Homo sapiens: one gene and its partners. The protein of the gene in region 5 purifies or fractionates together with the protein of the main gene of each other region. This does not show direct contact. Each region holds a gene or a part of one and is shown on either strand. Other genes may lie near its edges.

What was found.
Region 1: the proteins of ABCF2 (region 5) and GNL1 purify together in Homo sapiens (affinity purification with mass spectrometry, with the first as the bait; 2 studies listed by BioGRID). This does not show direct contact.
Region 2: the proteins of ABCF2 (region 5) and WDR36 fractionate together in Homo sapiens (co-fractionation; one large-scale study listed by BioGRID). This does not show direct contact.
Region 3: the proteins of ABCF2 (region 5) and PPP1R10 fractionate together in Homo sapiens (co-fractionation; one large-scale study listed by BioGRID). This does not show direct contact.
Region 4: the proteins of ABCF2 (region 5) and AHCYL2 purify together in Homo sapiens (affinity purification with mass spectrometry, with the first as the bait; 2 studies listed by BioGRID). This does not show direct contact.
Region 6: the proteins of ABCF2 (region 5) and EIF2S3 fractionate together in Homo sapiens (co-fractionation; one large-scale study listed by BioGRID). This does not show direct contact.

The regions. Positions count from the first base shown.
Region 1 is NC_000006.12:30,549,990-30,553,489, forward strand, and holds part of GNL1 (guanine nucleotide-binding protein-like 1), read right to left. Parts: coding exon 3,361-3,500; intron 3,191-3,360; coding exon 3,095-3,190; intron 2,673-3,094; coding exon 2,478-2,672; intron 1-2,477. UniProt on the Homo sapiens protein: Possible regulatory or functional link with the histocompatibility cluster.
Region 2 is NC_000005.10:111,098,848-111,102,347, forward strand, and holds part of WDR36 (WD repeat-containing protein 36), read left to right. Parts: intron 1-1,741; coding exon 1,742-1,874; intron 1,875-3,497; coding exon 3,498-3,500. UniProt on the Homo sapiens protein: Part of the small subunit (SSU) processome, first precursor of the small eukaryotic ribosomal subunit.
Region 3 is NC_000006.12:30,610,744-30,614,243, forward strand, and holds part of PPP1R10 (serine/threonine-protein phosphatase 1 regulatory subunit 10), read right to left. Parts: intron 1-3,500.
Region 4 is NC_000007.14:129,228,030-129,231,529, forward strand, and holds part of AHCYL2 (adenosylhomocysteinase 3), read left to right. Parts: intron 1-3,500. UniProt on the Homo sapiens protein: May regulate the electrogenic sodium/bicarbonate cotransporter SLC4A4 activity and Mg(2+)-sensitivity. On the contrary of its homolog AHCYL1, does not regulate ITPR1 sensitivity to inositol 1,4,5-trisphosphate.
Region 5 is NC_000007.14:151,214,095-151,217,205, forward strand, and holds part of ABCF2 (ATP-binding cassette sub-family F member 2), read right to left. Parts: intron 1,936-3,111; coding exon 1,873-1,935; intron 1,639-1,872; coding exon 1,510-1,638; intron 989-1,509; coding exon 785-988; intron 98-784; coding exon 1-97. Other genes in the region: ABCF2-H2BK1 (ABCF2-H2B protein), read right to left, coding at 1-97, 785-988, 1,510-1,638, 1,873-1,935.
Region 6 is NC_000023.11:24,071,956-24,075,455, reverse strand, and holds part of EIF2S3 (eukaryotic translation initiation factor 2 subunit 3), read right to left. Parts: intron 2,366-3,500; coding exon 2,193-2,365; intron 1-2,192. UniProt on the Homo sapiens protein: Member of the eIF2 complex that functions in the early steps of protein synthesis by forming a ternary complex with GTP and initiator tRNA.

The DNA of each region.
Region 1 (3,500 bases), on a different chromosome or scaffold from region 5:
ATTTTCTGTATTTTTTGGTAGAGACAGGGTTTCACCATGTTGGCCAGGCTGGTCTCAAACTCCTGGCCTCAAGTGATCCACCTGCCTCAGCCTCCCAAAGGGCTGGGATTATAGGCATGAGCCACTGTGCCCAGCCTAATCCTGTGGCTTTAAATACCACTTATATCCATCAATGGTTCCCCAAATTTAAATCTTTCCCAAATTCAAATTTCCGTCCTCTTCTCTCCCCTAAGCTGCTGACTACTTACCCACTGCCTATTCAACATCTCCACTAGGGATATTTAAAAAGAATCTGAAATTTCATTTCTGATTCCCCTCTCCTCCCCAAAGCCTTCAAATCTGCTTCTCCCCCAGTCTTCCCATCTCAGTATTTCCAGTTGCTCAAGACAAAAACCTGGAAGTCCTTCTTTATCCTCACTTTCCTTCACGTGCCAACTGCAAGCCATCAGCGATCTCATTTTCTCTACCTTCAAAATATATCATGCTTCCGGCCCTGTCTCACCACCTCCAGCTCCAGCATCCTACTCTAAGCAACTCTTATTTCTCTCCTAGATTACTGAAATAGCCTCAACTGCTCTCTCTGCTCCCTTTCTTGCCCACCCCCCATCATTTATTCTCTACTCAGGAGGTAAACTTATAAGAAACAAAATCAGATCCTATCATTCCCCTGTTCAAAACCTACCCTTGGCTTCTCATGAGACTTGGAATAAAATCCAAAATGGCTGTCACAGCCTCAGGGCTCTACATGATGTGGGCCCTGGTGATCTTGCTGACCTCATCCCCAGTACTTTATCCTGGCTCCCATACTCCAATCCCCTGGGCACTCTTGCTGGTCCTAGAATCTCCAAGCCCGTTCCCTCCTCAAGACCCTTTCCCCACAGTTCTGAATGGCTCACTTCATCTCATCATCCAGTTCTCTCCTCAGGGAGGTTTTCCCTGAGCACCTCTCCTCTCAGTCACTCTCTATCCCCTTTCATTGCTTTATTGCCTTCACTGCCCCTACATGATTTCGGATCACAAAATCTATTTACTCACAAGAAAATAAGCTCCATGAATCTACAGACCTTTTTGCCATTTCCACAGCAGTATGTCCCATCCCTAGAATATCTGGCACCTGGTTAAGTGTTCAGTACATATTTGTTGAATGGGTAAATGAATGAGAGCTGGAGGGAAATCCAAACTCAGGGGTGCCTGTGCCACAGCAAACACTCTCCCTCTCACACCACCTGGAATAGAGATCAGCTAGAGCAGAGGCTGCTAAGAGAGGGAACAGAGGCTCCTTGTGACAGGGAGACTAGGATCAGAAGTCAGGGAAGGGACAGCCGGGTGAAATGACTGGAAAGAGGAGCAATCACTCAGCAGTAAGGCAGGTTCTTCCAAAGACAAAAAGGACACAGAGATAAGTCAGGGCACTTCCAAGGAACCCAACTACCTACTCCACACTCCCAAATTTATTCTGGGTTGGGCCCTTTTTGGTTCCAATATCACCTCAGATACCATAACTTGTCCAAGGTCTCTTCTTACCTCTCCCACCCTAAATGAAGACGGGCCCTGGGTCCTAATCATACATTCCTTTTTCCTCCACTGTGAGCTGAGACAAAGCCCTTAAGAGGAGATTCTCCTTGGCAACAAACTTAAAGGGTTAAAACCTAGAAGAATACTAATTCTTGCTGAGCTCCTACTATGATTTGATAATCACTGTACTACAGACTAATTACTACAATTCAAATGGTTTATATAAACCACTTAAAACAGTGCCTGTTACATAGTAAGCACCATATAAATACTGAGTTTTAACAATAATAATTGTTATTATTGTTATCACTATTTGTCAGGCATTCTTACACTCTCTTAACACTATTCCCATCATTCCTCACATCCATTCTTTTTTTTTAAAGACAGGGTCTCTATCAGCCAGGCTGGAGTGCAGTGGCACAATCATAGCTCACTGCAGCCTTGAACTCTTGGGCTCAAGTGATCCTCCTGCCTCAGCCTCTGAAGTAGCAGAGACTACAGGCACATACCACCACACTTGGCTAGTTTTCTTTATCTTTTGTAAAGATGGGGTTTCACTATGTTGCCCAGACTAGTCTTGAGCTCCTGGTCTCAAGCAATCCTCCCACCTCAGCCTCCCAAAGCGCTGGGACTATATAGGCATGAGCCCTCACACATGGCCGTCATCCATTCTTTTACTCAGGTATCAATGTCCTTATTTTTAAAATCAAAGTAACTAAGACTCAGAGTAGCAAAATCACTTACTCAAGACCTCACAGCTGAGAAGAGGTGGAATTTAACTCAGGCTGTCATGATCCTTCCACTGCAGCAGACGCCTCTTCTGCCTTGCCCACCGCCACTGGCAGAGATCACCCCTCAGACACCCTGGGGCCTAATGAGACCTGATCGCCCTCTCTCTTCTCCGAATATGAAAACTCTGTACCTCCTTGGAGGCCACCACGCACAAGCTGCCACTTCCTTACCCACACAGCCGATGGTCACCACCCCATCCTTGTAGCGCTCTTGGGTTGGGCCAGTTGGCTCCATTGCTGAATCAGTCTGCTGCTCCACCAGGACTGCTGGGCCATCCTCCTCTTCCTCCTCCTCCCCAGAGCCATTACCCCAGGTGGCCCCAGCCACATCCCGAGCAATCTTCTCCCGCCAGCTGCTCAAGTCCACTGCTCAAAGAAGGAGAAGATTAAAGAGGTTCTCCCCAGGGCTGCTGTGCATGATGGCACATACTGTGCCCTGCACAGATTATGTAACTGGCACCCTCTGGAGTTGTACAGTGCCAACCTAAATAAGAGCAGGTCAGAGAATCTCCCAAAAGTCATTTGACCCTACCCTCCCTGGAATCACGCACGTTTCTCTGAGCTTCTGAAAAGTACTGGGAAGGCTAAAGGCAGCAAGCCACTGAGGCTCCTGACTACCTGCTGCCTCTCGTCCCACCAAGTCAGTCTGCTCCTTATTCTGTCCCTTCCCCTGGCCTCTTGCACATATCCACCATAGAGGGGTTGGCTTCAGGAAAGGTGAGCAAAATGATTCTGCATCTTTGGTCTCCCCCATGTCCTCCTACAGCCCTCCTCTAAGGGCCACATACCTTTCCCCACAGTGATGGCTTCACAGGCTCTCAGCAACTGCTCTGGCCCCAGGGCCCGAGTCCATCCTCTCCCCCGCCTCCGACTCTTCTTCAAGACTGAGATCAGAGGGCACAAAAGGATGGGCACACGGGCTTAGGCCTCTCATCTCTCCCACCACCCTTAGGCCCAAGACCAGGTGCCCCCTTGTCAATAAGCCTCTCTGTTCTCCCCTTTGTCCCCTGCCAACTCACCTCTCCCAAGTTGCCCTCTCTCATTGCCCACTCACCACTACTAGGGTCCTGTGGGGTGCGGGGGTCCCGAGGAAAAGAGGTGAAAAGGACGACGTGGAGCTGGGGATAGTGTTGATGGAAATAATGCTTCCAGGCAACCACAAGAGCTGGCGGGGCCAGATCCACCTTGTTCAAA
Region 2 (3,500 bases), on a different chromosome or scaffold from region 5:
TAACTCATTTATTTGCTTTATCTTAGGGTAGTATGTGTTTAATTAAAATTTAAAATCTATGTAAACATCTATGCCAGAGATTTTGCCTGTAAATAGTAAGAAATTAAAAAAATCAAAAATCTTTAACGTGTAAGAAAAAAAGTTCTAAGTAAGAAAGAGATAAACAACTTTAGCAAGTTAACTACTTATAAACTGTTTAATGTGCTTACCTCAACTAATGTATTTTCCATTGCAGTTCTCCAACTTTAATGATTTGTTGTATTGTTTTCCCTGTGGAGTGAATATTGATGTATTTTCATACCTGAGTAATTCTTGGTTTGTATTTTCACCTTTTAGTAAAGGAGACTGTAATAGTAAACTTGATCTTGTAATCTGAAGGAAAATATACATCCATTTCCTAGGGATATGAGTCAGTTTCTTTCAACTGTGATAGCTTAGACAGTGGCTATGTTTATGGGATTATGTATCTTTAAACATGAAGAATTTATCCCTAGGATATCTACACCTTTCCTCAATAAAATACTGGGTTCATCATGAATTGAATCTTTTAAGTTCTTTAATCTGGTTACATTTTTAGCTTATATTGCCTCTTGGTTTTTTTTTGTTTTTTTTTTTGTTTTTTTTTTTTTTTTTTTTTCAGTAAATATCCTGAAGATTGCATTTCTGGGAATTATTCCAGGTTCTTGTTTCAGATTAGTAACCCTTTTCTTGTTTTGTTTTTGCTCAAGTAGAGGGAGGGAACAGAATTCCAAAAGTATTCCCTGTGCAGATAGAAGTTAAAAGGGCTTTTATTAGGTTACAGGATCTGGTTCTTACATTCCAGCAGACTCTCTTGAACCAGTATATTCAGGGAGCCATTTGTAGTGACTGACGAATAAAGGCAAGGATCTCTTAAAATAGCATTCAAAGTAAAGTTTATATAATTTTCACCTATACCTGTACATCCTAAACTGTGGTACCCATACCCTGGGATTGTACAGTAGTGTGCCAGATAGTATGTGAACCTAAAGATTAAGTGAAATGTACCTTCTTTGATACACAAATTTACTGGAAAATAGAGTGGAACATTGTTTTAATCATGGAGGAACTGTAAAGTGAAAAGCAGAATTCAAACATAGAAATTTTGAATGTAACCAAAGATTTCAGAGAATTTTTTTATCTTGGAGCAAGTGACCACTGGTGATGCCACCCCCCACTCCACAGGGTTATACGTTTTTTTTTTCTCCTTTATTAGAGATTATTTTGTGGAAATGTGTGAGAAGTACTCTTATTTCACTGAGGTGTGTCTTTTATTTTTGGCATTTTTTGAGTGGCCCATCAAACTTTCCAGATAATTGGCTCTTCGTTCCCTGAAAGAGCTAAGTATAAGCACTTCACTTGGAATATTCACTCCTGTCTGTTGATCAAATTACAGAAACATGAATGCTAATCCTTAGGATCTTTTTTTTTTAACTTTATTATCCTTTTCTGTAAAGTAATTCAAAAGTGAATGAAACTTTTAATAGTATTTTTATTAGAAGTTACAGAAAATTTTTGACAGTCTAAATTAAATTACATTTACAAGTTGCCTCTCATTTATTTTATTTCTCAAGGAATGTTTATAGATTAGTATCTAAGTCTGTGGTTTATTTTAACATATAAATCTTTGATGTGATAGACTTACTTTAAGTGATAAATATATGGTTACATAAAACATTTTAAACTATTTTATAAAAAATATTTATAACTTTCACTTTTGTAGAAGAATACCTGCAGTTGACTTTTGATAAATCAGTATTTAAAATTTCTGCAATTTTGCATCCAAGTACCTACTTGAATAAAATACTTCTGGGCAGTGAACAAGGAAGCCTGCAGTTGTGGAATGTAAAATCCAAGTAAGTATTTTAGTTAGAAAATAATATAGCTGTCACCTTATCCTCATCTACTACTTCCTAATGTATACTTAAGTCTCATTTCTCCCTGCCCTTGTATATTTATTTGGAGGGTTGTCTATAAATAACAGTTGGTCCCCTGTATCAGAGGAGTCAATTAACCTGGGATCAAAAATATTCAAGGAAAAATAAATAAATAATAATACAACAATAAAACATCACATTTTAAAGTAGTACAGTATAACAGCTATTTACATAGTATTTACATTATATTAGGTCTTATAAGTAAGCTAGAGATTATTTAAAGTATATGCATAAATGTGTGAAAGTTATATGCAAATACCACACCATTTTATGTAAGGGACTTGAGCATCTGTGAATTTTGGTATCAGCAGAGAAGTTGGGGAAGTCCTGGAACCAATCCCCCACAGGTAGTGAGATATAACTATATGTTTGCTTTTGGAGTTGTTGCTGGTGGCATCACATATGTGAAAGGTGGCATGTGATCCTGACACATGTTAGACAGCTTCATAAATGCTCACTGAAAAGTATGTACTAATGACCTAATAACTGTAAAGAATTGCTATAGAGAAGGCTCTAATAAAGGTCTATGAGATCCATCAGAAAATAATAATAATGAGATTATTACTAGGGAGCTTCTGATTTTCCATACATGAAGATTTTCTATACATGAAGAAGGTAAAAGATGGAAAGGCAAATCAATAATTTAGTGCTAGCATTTAGAAATGATTTTTAGGGTTAAAAGTACTTCCATAATCTCCCATAGATATGGCAAATATCTAATATTGATGTAGCTAGAGGGCTGGATACATGATTTTGAATACTTCTATCCATTATGTAAACATTTATCAGTAGAAAAAGGTGGCAGCTCACACTTCTTTGTATAGCATTTTAAAAAGCAAACAAAAATATTTGACCATCCAAATTGTTTTTTTCCAAAGTCCTTTTAAATTCAAAAGGGAAAATAAGATTATTAAAGGTTTGATGTTTTAAATCAGTGTTTCATTACAATTTAACAAATACCATTGACTGCCTACTTTGTGCTAGGTTCAGCAATAGTGACTGAAATACTGTCTTTGCCCATTTACAGAATTTAATACATGATTTAATATTTTAATGATAATTATAATGATTTCAGATACCTCTGTTTGCTCCATGGATGTGTTATTTATCATTCATGACTTGCTTCTGAAATTGAGAGCAGCATTACTGTTGTCATATAACAGTCATATAACATGCAAATAATATTTTTATTAAAATATAAGTTATTCCCTTTCATGATGTTTCTATAAAGATACTGCAGTCCTAAATTTTTTTTACTGTAGCCTGTAATATAACATGATTTTTACACACGTATTTTTTTTTCCACTTAGGACATTTAATTTCTTAATGAGGTGGCATAGCATAGTAGTTAGTTTGAGACCTAGAATTTGTCTGGACAATATTACTAACCTTGTGACATTAGCTTAATCATCAGAATAGTGTGTGGAAGAGTAAGAACTTAATAAATATCACCTATTATTATTTCACTTTTTAATGTGTAGCTGATATTGTTTTCCTCCAAAAAAAAAAAAATACAGCTTTCAACTATTTTTCTTCTTGTAGTAA
Region 3 (3,500 bases), on a different chromosome or scaffold from region 5:
TCTCCTCAAAAATCACGCTGTACAAGATCCCCTAGGAAAGCCTAAAACTGAAAACCATGGAACCTAAAAAGGGAACAGATAAAGCCAAATGCTAGAAAAATTCCCTTTTAAGCAGCTGTTTTAGACCAGGTTGGGAAGGGAATTAGTTAAAAGCTAAGCTCCTTTTATGGAAGGGACAAGCCAGAACTGAAGTTCCAGAAAGGTAATTTAGGATCAATATGGTTCTGATTGGGATTTTTATCTACACTGCCTCTAAATACTTGCTTCTAAGACCCAAAAAAGAGGCTGGGTGCAGTGGCTCATGCCTGTAATCCCAGCACTTTGGGAGGCCAAGGTGGGCAGATTCCTTGAGCGCAGGAGTTTGAAACCAGCCTTGGCAACATGGCGAAACCTCATCTCTACAAAACATAAGTCGAGTGTGATGGTGTGCACCTGTAGTCCCAGCTACCCGGGAGGCTGACGTGGGAAAACGGGAGGACTGCTTGAGCCCAGGGATACTGAGGCTACAATGAGCTGTGATTGTGCCACTGCACTCCAGCCTGAGAGACAGAGTAAGACGCTGCCTCAAAAACAAACAAACAAAAAACCACCAAAAAAGAAAGCCACTTCAGCAATATCTGCCTTTGGGCAATAAGGCCCACACTGAGTAGCAAGGAAGAGGCAAGAACAAAACCTTCCTCATCCTACATCTAGCACAGAAGTAACAGACACAATCCCAGCAGAAGGGTAGAAAAATCAGTATTTTACAAAGATGAGTAGTTTTGTGCCGGAAAAAACACAGGTTTCTTGTAAGACAATGCAAATTAGTTCTACTTGTTCTCAAACAAAAGAAAAAACATAGCATAACAATCTCAGCCTTTTTGTCCTCCCAACAAAAACGTCAGTAAGTTTCCAAATGTGTAGGTCCTAACAACCTAGGCGAGCAGCAGCAGAAGCAGGGAGGAGGCAGCCAGGAAGGGTAGGAGTATAATCTTGGCTCTGGAGATCATAACCTGTGGGCTGAACAGAGGGAGAGATGAGGCAAGAAATGTTGAGAAGTCGCTGCTGCCCTGGAACCTCCACAAATACAAGTGGAACCTGAGGTCAGAGAAAAAACATTCAAGGAGAATACTGGAAAAGATTAGATGTCCGTGGGCCAAATCCACTCAAGTGTGGTGATTCCTACACACACAGAGACAGACACAGAAATAAAGGTATTCTTCCCATGTAGTGAGATACTATAAAGTGATCTATAGAAACTATAAAGAGATACGATAAAGGGACACATAAAACAGATATCACATCTGTTGGAGACTGGAAAAGCAATGTATGGGTTCCAATAACAACATATCATAAGCAATCAAGAGACTAAGAAATTTTTAAAACTCCCTCTCTCTATATATACACACATACCTACCATTAGATTCCTAAAGCAAAATATATGCAATTTGACAAAAGGCCTTGAATTAAACATCATTTCAAACCAGTTACCCTTGACTGATTCAAACCCAGAGTTGAATATATATAACCCTGGAGAATTCCTTTTTGCATATCCAACTACAAGCTAAGCCAATAAATAGACCTACTACCCCTATTTCCTTCAGACACTAAATAAACTGTCATCTGAGCTCAAGTGTTCCTTAAGAGGATGGGAGACAAGAAAGAAGAGCCAGTCTTAGAAAAATGGACCAATGAGTACAAAGCTAAATTCTGTCCAGTGCCCTCTGCTGGAAATGGGATCCAGGGACTTTTTTATTCCCACATGTATAAACAAGAATAAAAGACATTAATAGTCAAAGGGAAGCTAAGAGACAAAGCAAAATTAGCGTTAAATATTCATTTTCCACTACTTATATTTTGGAAATATAAGTGAAATTTTGTCTCATGAGCACCAATCTTGATAAAATGTAAGTGGGTTTTCTCATGATGGCCTTCCTTCAGGAAGATTAGTTCTTATTTAAAATTAAGGACCCCAAGTGTCTTATAACCTAGTTTCCTTGCTTTGAAGTCAGTATATTTTGGAAAAAAACCAAACAATTTCCAAGGCGCTCAAGTGGAAAGGAATGTAAAGTCCAACATTTCGGGCACAGGGCTACAGCAGAGAAGGCAAACTGAGTTGATGAAGGCAGGCAGGGGCCGTGACTAAGTGTTGTAACATTACCTACTCAAGATCTGGAGTCTAGAATGAAAGCTTAAGAAAGCTTTCTGGAACCACAAGTAATCCACGGCATGATTATGTCTTCTTTTAATGAGCTGCTATTTTCTTGACTGCAGAACATACAGAAGGTGGGGAGTGAGGTAGCAACCCCCTGGCCTACCTCCACCTCATCCTAAGCTATGCGTTCCTTATGGAGAATGTTTCAGGCAGAGCCATACTCTACTGGCACAAGGCATTGGGGAATTTTCTACCATTTTTACCAGAGATAAACGTCTGTGACACCAACTCCTGCCTTCAAAATGAATTTTACTTGAGGGTTATTCAATTAAATAGGGTGAAAAAATATCCAGCATAGCTAAAGTTATTCCACACCCATCACCAATGAAACAGGACTGAATTGGTTCAGGATAAAAATTCTGTGCAAGTCAGAGCTCTTTAAAAAATAACTGTCTTCTAACAAAAGGAGAAAAAAGTCCCAAATTTACCTTAATTTAGAGGCACTTCTGGAAATGAAAATGATTTGTACCTAACCCCTTATGTTCCCCTTCCTTTCTTCAGTGTTTTAGGCACTTCCTAGTTTGACACAATAGTGGACTGAATTATGTCTCTCAGGTGATTCATCACAAGGTCATAGCTTTCTTCCAAGTAGTAAGCCCCTACCCCTCAGTCATTTTGCAAACCTGATACATGAGCTCCTCAAAAGCTTATCTGCCTTCCAATAAAGATGCAAAATGATATACCACCCTGACTCATAGAAAAAGACCCCAGACTAGAACTCTGGCCACAAACTACAAGGATCAGGTTTTCCAAGATTTTCTGAATGGATGTGGTTCCCCTAGTAGACCTGGCTTCCCATCTCCCATGTTAAGGAAGATCTTCTTTATTAATCCCCTGGCTCACTAGAGATCAGGAACCCCAGTGGGTAGAATGTTCAGCTCCCAAGGAAGATATGCTGCAGAGGCACATGGCAAACTGCTTAAAAGAAAAAAACAAAACAAAACAAAAAAAGCTTGTAGTCAACAGACATGTGAAGAGTCCCTCCCATCCAATCCAGAAGCTTAAGTAATAATTTGAGAATCTGTACCCAGTAGGAAGTTAGCCCTAAGTCTCACCCAGGTCACCAGAGGGCAGTTATACTTTCCAATTCTGCCTAGAACCTCCACGCTTCAGTGCAGGACTTTTAAAAATTAAAATTATATGGAGAGTCTGATAAAGATTTGACTTTGAAAAATTTGGGGGAAGAAAGGAACCAGACACCCAATACCACCCTCAGATAGGGCATGGCTTCTGAACATGCACCAAATGCCACAGCACTGCATGAGTTGAAAAATGAAGAGGACATCATTTTTTCATTAATGCTTTT
Region 4 (3,500 bases), about 22 Mb from region 5:
AGTGTGACATTTTGATTTGTTGAGCCTTTGTTGATTCTTAGATTGTCTATGTAAATAACCACTTTGACCTTGACTCCTTACTGTTTTTCTTATAGCATATGAAGGAACTGAGAATACTAGTATTGAAATAGCTGCCTTTGGCTGTGGAACTGGTGACTGTTGCATTTGTTTTTTAACTTTCATGTATAAACATTTATTTTAAGTCACATTTCCATAGATGGTTTTCCTTACTTCATTCACATATCATCAGTTTTCTTAGTTTTGTTACTCTGCTCAGCCACACAAGGGGAATAAACTTTTTACAAGAGCCAGAATTCCCAAGTGCAGTAGTTAATAAGAAGGAACATATGGTGTGCAGGTTACTCAATCACATCTTATCTTTGGCACCTGCCTCCGTCCTGTAACTTGCGATGCTCTGGGGGCCAGATCATGTTATGTGGCTATGATATATTTAATTATAGTGTCCTTTTTCATAAGTTGACATCAAGTGAACCCAGCAAGCCAAAAATCTCTATAAGAAGTAATTTGGGAAATGGGAAGGTAAGTTCCACAGGGAATGAGGTAGTACTAGCTGAAAGGGATTTCTTCCTTGTGTTCTTGAAAATGAGTGATAGGAGTGTTGGCGCACAGCAGGGAAAACAAGGCAGGAGAGGATTTATTTCAGAAATATTAAAACTTTCTGACAATAAGGCTGCAAGCCCAAGAACCTCAACTAGATTGTGCTTACATCAGTATCAGTAATGACCGTGTTCAAACAGACCCTTTATTGCTTTTGGCAAACATATCCACCTTCCACTGGCTTTGTTGCTGTCAGGAGAGAATGAGTTGAGCCATGTTAGCACTTCTTGTCCTGAATTGTTTAAGCTCTTGATTTGGTTAATTATAGAGTACTAAAATGGAATGTTTTGGATAAAGACATGGGAATGTGGTAGCAGTATGACTCCTTTTGCCTGTTACAAGAGTACTGCTCTGAAAAGTGTTCAGTAAGGCAATTGGCAGTTGGTCTGTAATAATAGTTACCAATAATTAGCCTTTTTTTTTTTTTTTTTTTTTTTGAGACAGAGTTTTACTCTTGGTGCCCAGGCTGGAGTGCAATGGTGCAATCTCAGCTCACCGCAACCTCCGCCTCCCGGGTTCAAGCGATTCCCCTGCCTCAGCTTCCTGAGTAGCTGGGATTACAGGCATGCACCACCATGCCCGGCTAATTTTCTATTTTCAGTAGAGATGAAGTTTCTCCATGTTGGTCAGGCTGCTTTCAAACTCCCGACCTCAGGTGACCTGCCTGCCTCGGCCTCCCAAAGTGCTGGGATTACAGATGTGAGCCATTAGCCTTTTATGTGCCAGGAGTTGTCATAGGGGTTCTGTAATCCTCACAACCATACTATGAGATGTAGGTGGCATTATTTCCATTTTATAGATGCAGAAATGAGATCCTGGGAGGTTAAGTGCCTTGCCCAAGGTTATACATCTAGAAAGTGTCAGAGGTAGAACTTAAATCCAGGGCTGTCCGTCTCCAAAGCCCATGTCCTTTTCATTATGCCACAGTGATTCTAACTTCTTAGATGCTGAGTTCTTGCTTTCTCCCAGAGGTCTTTTAGAATACTAAGTGAACTCTAAGGCGTGTCTGTCTGGCTAAGGCTTAGGTCATCCCAAGACCAAAGTAAGGCAGGTCTGAGTTAGAGCTTTAGGAAGAGGATGGGAGAAAATTGTACAAATGTAGAACTTGAAAGAATTGTAAATTTAGAAGAGGAGAATAAAAGCATCTTATACAGAAAAGCATTTCAAGATCAATGATGCAGCTTCACACTGGTAATTTACTGATAATCTGAGAAATTTATCCATATTTTAAAAGTTATAAATAAATTTGGAGTACCTGAGGAATATACCCTTTCTTCCTGTTCAGCTAACACTTTTTCCCTATTCTTTAAGCCTCACCATCTCTATGAGTCAATCTTTGATAAGAGCTTTTGAAAATTGCAAAGGGAAGAATATTCCTACTGTATACCAGGCATTGTACTTAGAGCTTTACATATACTGTTTTATTTAATTCTTTTTTTTTTTTTTTTTTTTTTTGAGACCAAGTCTCGCTCTGTCACCCAAGCTGGAGTGCAGTGGCGATCTCGGCTCACTGAAACCTCCGCCTCCTGGGTTCAAGCGATTCTCCTGTCTTGCCCTCCTGAGTAGCTGGGACTACAGGTGTGTGCCACCACACCCGGCTGATTTTTTTAATTTTTAGTAGAGACTGGGTTTCACCAAGTTAGCCAGGGTGGTCTCGATCTTCTGACCTCGTGATCCACCCGCCTCAGCCTCCCAAAGTGCTGGGATTACAGGCATGAGCCACCGCGCCCGGCTATTTAATTCTTTTAAGAGGCCTCGAAGATAGCTAGTGTTCTCCTTGTTTTATTGAAGAAACTGAGTGTCGAAGAGATTAAGGAATTTGTCTCAAGGTTACACGGTAATGTGATGGAACTAACAGAGCCCTAAACTGTTGCTTTTCAATTCAAATAGTACTCTGTTCGAAACTCAGGATGAACCTTCTAAATCTTTTTTTTTTTTTTTTTGAGATGGAGTCTTGCTTTGTTGCCCAGGCTGGAGTGCAGTGGTGCGGTCTTGGCTCACTGCAACTTCTGCCTCCCGGGTTCAAGTGATTCTTCTGCCTCAGCCTCCCGAGTAGCTGGGACTACAGGTGCACGCCACCACGCCTGGCTAATTTTTGTATTTTTAGTAGAGACGAGGTTTCACCATATTGTCTAGGCTGGTCGTGAACTTCTGACCTCGTGATCCACCTGCCTCAGCCTCCCAAAGTGCTGGGATTACAGGCGTCAGCCACCACGCCTGGCCCTAAATCTTAATCTGTGTTTTTTGGGTAGTTTTTTTGTTATTGCACTGACAGTTTCTTTTTATTTATTGCGTGGTTGAAGGTCTTACCGTGTGTTTTTGTGAGCATTTATTTTCTGAGAAAGCAGCCTGAGGTGGGCAGATCATGAGGTCAAGAGATCAAGACCATCCTGGCCAATGTGGTGAAACCCTGTCTCCACTAAAAATACAAAAAATTAGCTGGGCATGGTGGTGCACTCCTACAGTTCCAGCTACTCAGGAGGCTGAGGCAGGAGAATCACTTGAATGCTTGAATGCGGGAAGTGGAGGTTGCAGTGAGCCGAGATCATGCCACCGCGCTTCAGCCTGGCGACAGAATGAGACTCTGTCTCAAAAAAAAGAAAAAAAAAAGCTGCTTTAGGAGCTGAAGTTGCAGTTGTGTGTTTGATGTCTTGAGGAAGACAATTACTACTACTACTACTACTAGTACTACCTACATTCTCAGTATCCAGTTAATTGAAGAAATCGATAGTTCATTAAAAAGGGAGAGTGAGTTTATTATATCATTTCCTTGGAAGTGATTCCCTCCCCCACGAGAGAAAAAAAGTTTGTTGTAATCTTTATTCAGACCCTTTGTCAAGTTTATAAAGAATATGCAGTTTGTTTCATGGTGGTTTTTGTTT
Region 5 (3,111 bases):
CCACCAGCTTGGACTTGAGGTGCTCCTTGTAAGCCAGGATGTCTCCAGGCCACTTGGTGATTGTCTGCTTCTCACAGACCCAAATTTCCTGTGCAACCTAGAAAGCAAAACCTGGACTTAATCCTGGGCTAGTCACTGTCCCTGCCTCTGCCCAGCAGACTGTCCTGAGGGGCGTCTAGGAAGAAAACTCCGCCCCCCAAACCCATATCCAACTCACTGTCTCACTACTTCTAAGTTATTTGGGATGTTCTAACCCAAGGGTACCATCATCAGGTTTGGAGCCTTCCAAGCCAGGAACTGCTGTGTCACTCCTATTGTCAGCTCCCTGGCAGGGCCTAGATCTATTCAGAGGCTTCACTCTCAGCCTTCTTTTCTCCACCTCTCATCTTCCCCAGAGCTTCAGAGGAATGAGCAACAACTTTTTCTCAAATGACTGTGGTAGCTGTCTAATCAAAATCCTCCTTAGAATACTATTTTTGGACTGAAGAATCTTGGGACAGTAGTAAAAGCACCGTTTTCTACCCAACTCTCTTTCCCATTTGGGCCCAAAATGCTAAGTTGGTTGACATCTCCAGATAGCTACTGAAGAAATGAAGTGTTTCAGTTAAGGCTTTCTAAGTAGCCCCAAAGAGGCATAAGAACTGGTCCTCACCACCTGTGTCTACACTCTGAGCCCCTTCTCTTAATTCAGTAGGCGGGTATTATGCACCCTCCACATGCCATGACTACCCTACCCAACCCCCTAGAAGCTCTGCTGTGCCTCACCCCCTGGCCAGGGCCTCACCTGCTGAATGAGTCTGAAGTCATGGCTGACCAGCATCATACCACCCTCAAACTCATTGATGGCATCTGCCAGGGCGTCGATGGTCTCGATATCCAGGTGATTGGTGGGTTCATCCAGGAAGAGCATGTGGGGGTTCTGCCAGGCCAGCCAGGCCAGACACACTCGGCACTTCTGCCCGTCTGACAAGTTCCGGATTGGGCTCACCTGAGTAGAACCGTGACCTACATATAACTTGGCATTATCCCCGCCAAACAGCACAGCTCATCTCTCCCTCATTTCTCCCTGACTCCTCCATTAGCATCGCCATTTATAAAAAGTGAGGCTCAGAGAGACCCACTAGTCTCTTGAGGCCTGAAAGAGACTCATCCGGAAACCTGAAGCCCTTGCCATTACTAAGCCCACACCTCTCGCTCTCTTGGCAATGAATTGGATCCTTCCAGATCTGAATCCAGAAATTTGTTTTCTAGATTACAAGTTCCTTTGCCCTCAAGCACTATGGCACAAGGGCATGTCAGAGACTGGCACGCTATCCTTGCCCCCTCAAAATGCTCCATTACATAACAACCTAGAGTAAAGAAAAGGTAGTAGGTTCTTAGGGGAGTCAAATGGAGGAGACTCTGGTTTGGACAGCTTCCAAACCCAGGCTGCCAGGACAGTATCCCCTGACCCACCCAGCCACAGTCTGCCAGCTATCTGGCATCCTCACCACACCCTCCTTTACTGACCTGTTGTTTCCCAGTGAGACCGTATCGCCCAATGATCTTCCTCATTTCTTCCTTCTCCTTGATCTCTGGGTAGCACTTCATCATGTACTCCAAAGGTGAGAGATCTAAGTCCAGCTGCTCTTGTAAATGCTACAGGAAAAATGGAAGCCACCCGGGTGTGACTGGCATCCCGCTTCAAAATAAACCCTACTAGGTAACTTCCTATTTCTATCCCAGGCACCTGTTCTGGGTTCAAGAAGCAGGTAGGAGCCACCTAGGCTGGAATTCCTGCCAGGGGGTGGGGGCGGCTGGCTGGAACTCAGCCAGATACAGCCCCTCCCTATACCCTGGGCAATTCCCCGGATCCCAACCCCAGGCCTGTACCTGATGGTAACGCCCTATCTTGACATGAGAGTGTTTTCGGATCATGCCATCTGTGGGTAGTAGCTAGGAAGAAAAAAGTAGAAACGTAAGCATGAAACAAAGGAAGCCCAGTTAGAAACATAGGCAGAGCAGGCAAACAAACACATGTTCACACTGAACAAGACTCAACTTCCTAAAAAGAATACATCACCAACTCGCACACTGCTATTCTGGCCACTCTAAAAATATTTAGGAAGATGTACTGAAGCAGATGTTCTCAAGAGGCAAAGATACAATTTAAGTAGTTATAAAATGTCTACTGAATGCACTATGCTGTATAACAAAGGACTTGGATGTAGGTGCAACATACATTTTCTAAAATTAAAAACAGTTAAGTCCTCAAAGTTGTCACTGTCATCGATAGGTTCTTAGAAACAGAACCTATTTTAAAGTTTCACTTTAAGTGAAACAACATATAGCAAAACTAATTTTGCCACAGGCTAACTGATATAAACAAGAATTAGGTTCCTGCAGCATTTTTGGTCACAAAAAAAGATCACCAAACTTCTAAATAAAGATCCAAAGATTCTTTTCTTTAAGAGGGAGTCTCGCTCTGTTGCCCAGGCTGGAGTGCAGTGGCGAGATCTCGACTAACTGCAACTTCTCTGTCCCAGGCTCAAGAGATTCTGGAGTAGCTGGGATTACAGACACCCGCCACCACACCTGGCTAATTTTTTTTTTGCATTTTTAGTAGAGAGGGGGTTTCACCATGTGGCCAGGCTGGTCTCACACTCCTGATCTCAAGTGATCTGCCTGCCTCGGCCTCCCAAAGCACTGGGATTACAGGTGTGAGCCACGGCACCTGGCCAAAAAACCCAGTCACTTCTAATATTCAACATCAAAATACATGTGAGCTATACATACACTTAAGAAAGATTAATAAAAACAAGGTAAGATATTTACCCAATTTTTGGTGAATCAGTGAGTGATGGCAATTTTAAGAGTGGTGGGTTAAACCAAGGAATAAATGTTTGCAAAGGGAAAACTGTAAGGAGCACCTCCTACCACCACACAGTTAAAAAATAATCACGAATGTGGCTGGTTTGCTGACTGCATTTGTATGGTTATCATAAACTTTATGAATTTTTCTTTTACAATATTTTATATTCATTCATTCTATCATTTTCCAACCTGCTTATTCAAGTTTAGGATCATGGGCAGCTGGAGCCCATCCCACAACCCAGGGAACAAGACAAGAAC
Region 6 (3,500 bases), on a different chromosome or scaffold from region 5:
GTGGTATGGACTGTGATGAGGTGACGAGGAATGGAAAGCAAGGGGCAAACTCAATAACCTGGGAAAGAGCAAAAAGTCAGGAGCCAAAAATGTGTGTATGCTTCCTGGCTCTATGCTCTCAAAAGACCTAGAAGCAACAGCACCCTAAGAGCCATGAGCACACCTGAACACTCAGCTTTTCATTTATAAGAGAAATGGCCAGTTCTAAAACTGGAACAGAGAAGGTACAAGATGAGTCTGGAAGATTTTGTGCCAGAAAATAAGGAAATGTTCCAAAAAAAAGAAGAAAGAGGTCAGGCGTGGTGGCTCATGCCTGTAATCCCAGCACTTTGGGAGGCCAAGGAGGGCGGATCACCTGAGGTCGGGGGTTAAAGACCAGGCTGGCCAACGTGGTGAAACCCCGTCTCTACTGAAAATACAAAAATTAGCCGGGTGTGGTGGCGTGTGCCTGTAGTCCCAGCTACTCGGGAGGCTGAGGCAGGAGAATTGCTTGAACCTGGGAGGCAGAGGTTGCAGTGAGCTGAGATCATGCCACTGCATTCTACCCCGGCGACAAAGCAAGACTCCATCTCAAAAAAAAAAAAAAAAAAAAAGAAGAAGAAAAAAAAATGATGAGTACATGTCAAAAGGACACAAGAGCCAGCCTGAAGGACCTCCACTGGCCAAACGTCGAACAATGCACATCAAAATAAAGGAAGACAGTGATGGATCATAACATGTTGAATAAAATAGGACTCCATGAGTCCATATTATAACTAGATAGGGAAATAAATAATGGCAAAGAAAGAATGCCAAATGATAAATGTGGGGTGGTAGAGTTGAGGGAGGATACTGCAACCCGTAGAGGTGCTATGATTTTGTAATCATTATAGTCAAGTTCGATTCAGGCAAGAATCATCAGTGGATGCTACATCCAGGGGTGTGGGATTCAATGATCAGCAGGCTATTTGTACTGGCTAGAAAGATCTCCCTACAGATTGCTTATTAGTTGCAAGGGTAGAGAGTAACTACACAGCAGAGAAGCTGGACAACATCTTGACTACATAGTCAAAACTAACCTTAACAAAGAGGAGCAGTCAGATATCATGTGCCTCTAGCTGTGATTCCTGAAAAGGAGACTTCACGGTGTATTTAAGTTAAGAATATATAACTGAATCTAATGTTAGGCTTCCGAATGATAAGAAAAACCCAAATTGAGGAATATTCTATAAAGTAACTAGTTTGTATTCTTCAGAACTGTTAATGTCAATTAAGACAAAGGCTGAAAAAGCTCCAGATTAAAGATCAAAGAGACATGAAATTAAATGCAATTCAAGATTCTAAACAGGAGGAACATAAAGTACATTATTGGGACAAGTAATAAAACTGAAACATGCACTGTAGATTTCAGTATTTTGCCAATGTTAAATTTCTAAGTGGTTACATAAGAATATCCTTTTTTGATGGGAAATATACACTGAAGTATTAAGAGATCAAGAAGCATAACATATATAGCCTACACTCAAATGGTTCAGAAAAAAACTTATATATGTAAATAAATCTGTATGTGTGTTTGTCAATCTAGGAAAAAGCTATAGAGGAGTTTTCTGTAAAACTCTTACAATTTTTCTATTAAGTGTGAAATGATTTCCAAAGCCAATGACGATAGAAATACCGAACCCAAATTCATTTGGTTTTGCATAGGTTGTGTCTAACAGGAAGAGAAGCCAATCACAGTATTTGGACTAAAATATGGGACTATAGTCAAGGTTGTAGTTTTTTCTGAGACGGAGTCTCGCTCTGTCGCCCAGGCTGGAGTGCAGTGGCGCCATCTCGGCTCACTGCAAGCTCCGACTCCCAGGTTCACGCCATTCTCCTGCCTCAGCCTCCCGAGTAGCTGGGACTACAGGCGCCCGCCACCACGCCCGGCTAATTTTTTGTATTTTTTAGTAGAGACGGGGTTTCACCATGTTAGCCAGGATGGTCTTGATCTCCTGACCTCATGATCCACCCGCCTAGGCCTCCCAAAGTGCTGGGATTACAGGCGTGAGCCACCGCACCCGGCCGAAGTATAGTTTTCAAAGTCATCCAAATAAATAGTTGAGACTGAAAGCCACAGTAACTGTTGTCCTCAAGGAAGATTGTGTGCTTTTTTTTCTGTACAAGACTGTGTCTTTTTTTAATTAGACAGTGGCAAAGACTAACAAACTTACCGCCAGTGTTTTTCAACTCTTCGGCTAAGGGCAATTTTTTCTCCTACCTCTGTGCACACTGGATTGGTCAAAACAATTTTACCCAAATCGGCCTTGACAGCACTAACTCTCCCTCCTGTTGACAGGGATCCTATGTTCACCATGAGCACTTCATTCTTAGACAGCTTTTGAACCTAGAAAAATAAATTAGGGAAAAATAAACCCCAAAATCAAGAAAATGCTTTCCAAATGTAAGTAAGAATTTACCAAATACTATTGGGAAATATGTCAATCATAAAAAAAATTCTATAGAAATTTCATTGTAAAGGAATTTGAACTATATATAGTATAGTTTATTTGGCACCCACTGAATTTACACAAGATCTACCTTTAAAAAATAGGGTAGTAACCGTACCAGAGTACCTCTTAAAATTCTGAAGCAGTTACCTAGTACAAATGAGGTACAAAATTTCCCAAAGAGGGGAGCATGAAGGACTATGGCTATATAAGAGTTAATATGGGCCAGGCGCAGTGGCACACGCCTGTAATCCCAGCACATTGGGAGGCCGAGGAAGGCAGATCACCTGAGTGGGGGGAAAAAAAAGCATGATAGCTTATTTTCCTCAATCTTTGCCAACACTAGGTGTCAGCAATTTCCCATCTCTGCCAACCTAATCTGGGACATTTTTTAAAAATCATGAAGCTGGGCGCAGTGGATCACACCTGTTAATCCCAGCATTTTCGGAGGCTGGGGTGGGCAGATTGCTCAAGCCCAGGAGTTGGAGATCAGCCTGGGTAATGCGGCAAAACTCCGTCTCTACAAAAAATACAAAATTAGCCAGGCGTGGTGACCCACACCTGTAGTCCCAGCAACTCAGGAGGTTAAGGTGGGAGGATGGCTTGAGCTGGGAGATCGAGGCTGCTGTGAGTCGAGATCGCACCACTGCACTCCAGCCTGGGCAACAGAGCAAGACTCTGTCTCAAAATAAACAACAAAACAAAAATATGGATTTTAGGAATATCATGTCTTTGTCATAAATGGCTAATACTTTTCCCTGTTTATTAAGTTTCTTTCTTAAACTAACTGCCATATAGTTCTCAATTTTGGCCGGACGCAGTGGCTCATGCCTGTAATCTCAGCACTTTGGGAGGCCAAGGCGGGCGGATCACTTGAGGTCAGGAGGTCAAGTCCAGCCTGGCTAACATATAGTGAAACCCCATCTCTACTAAAATATACAAAAATTAGCTGGGCGTGCTGGTGCGTGCCTGTAGTCCCATATACTTGGGAAACCGAGGCAAGAGAATTGCTTGAACCCAGGAGGTGGAGGT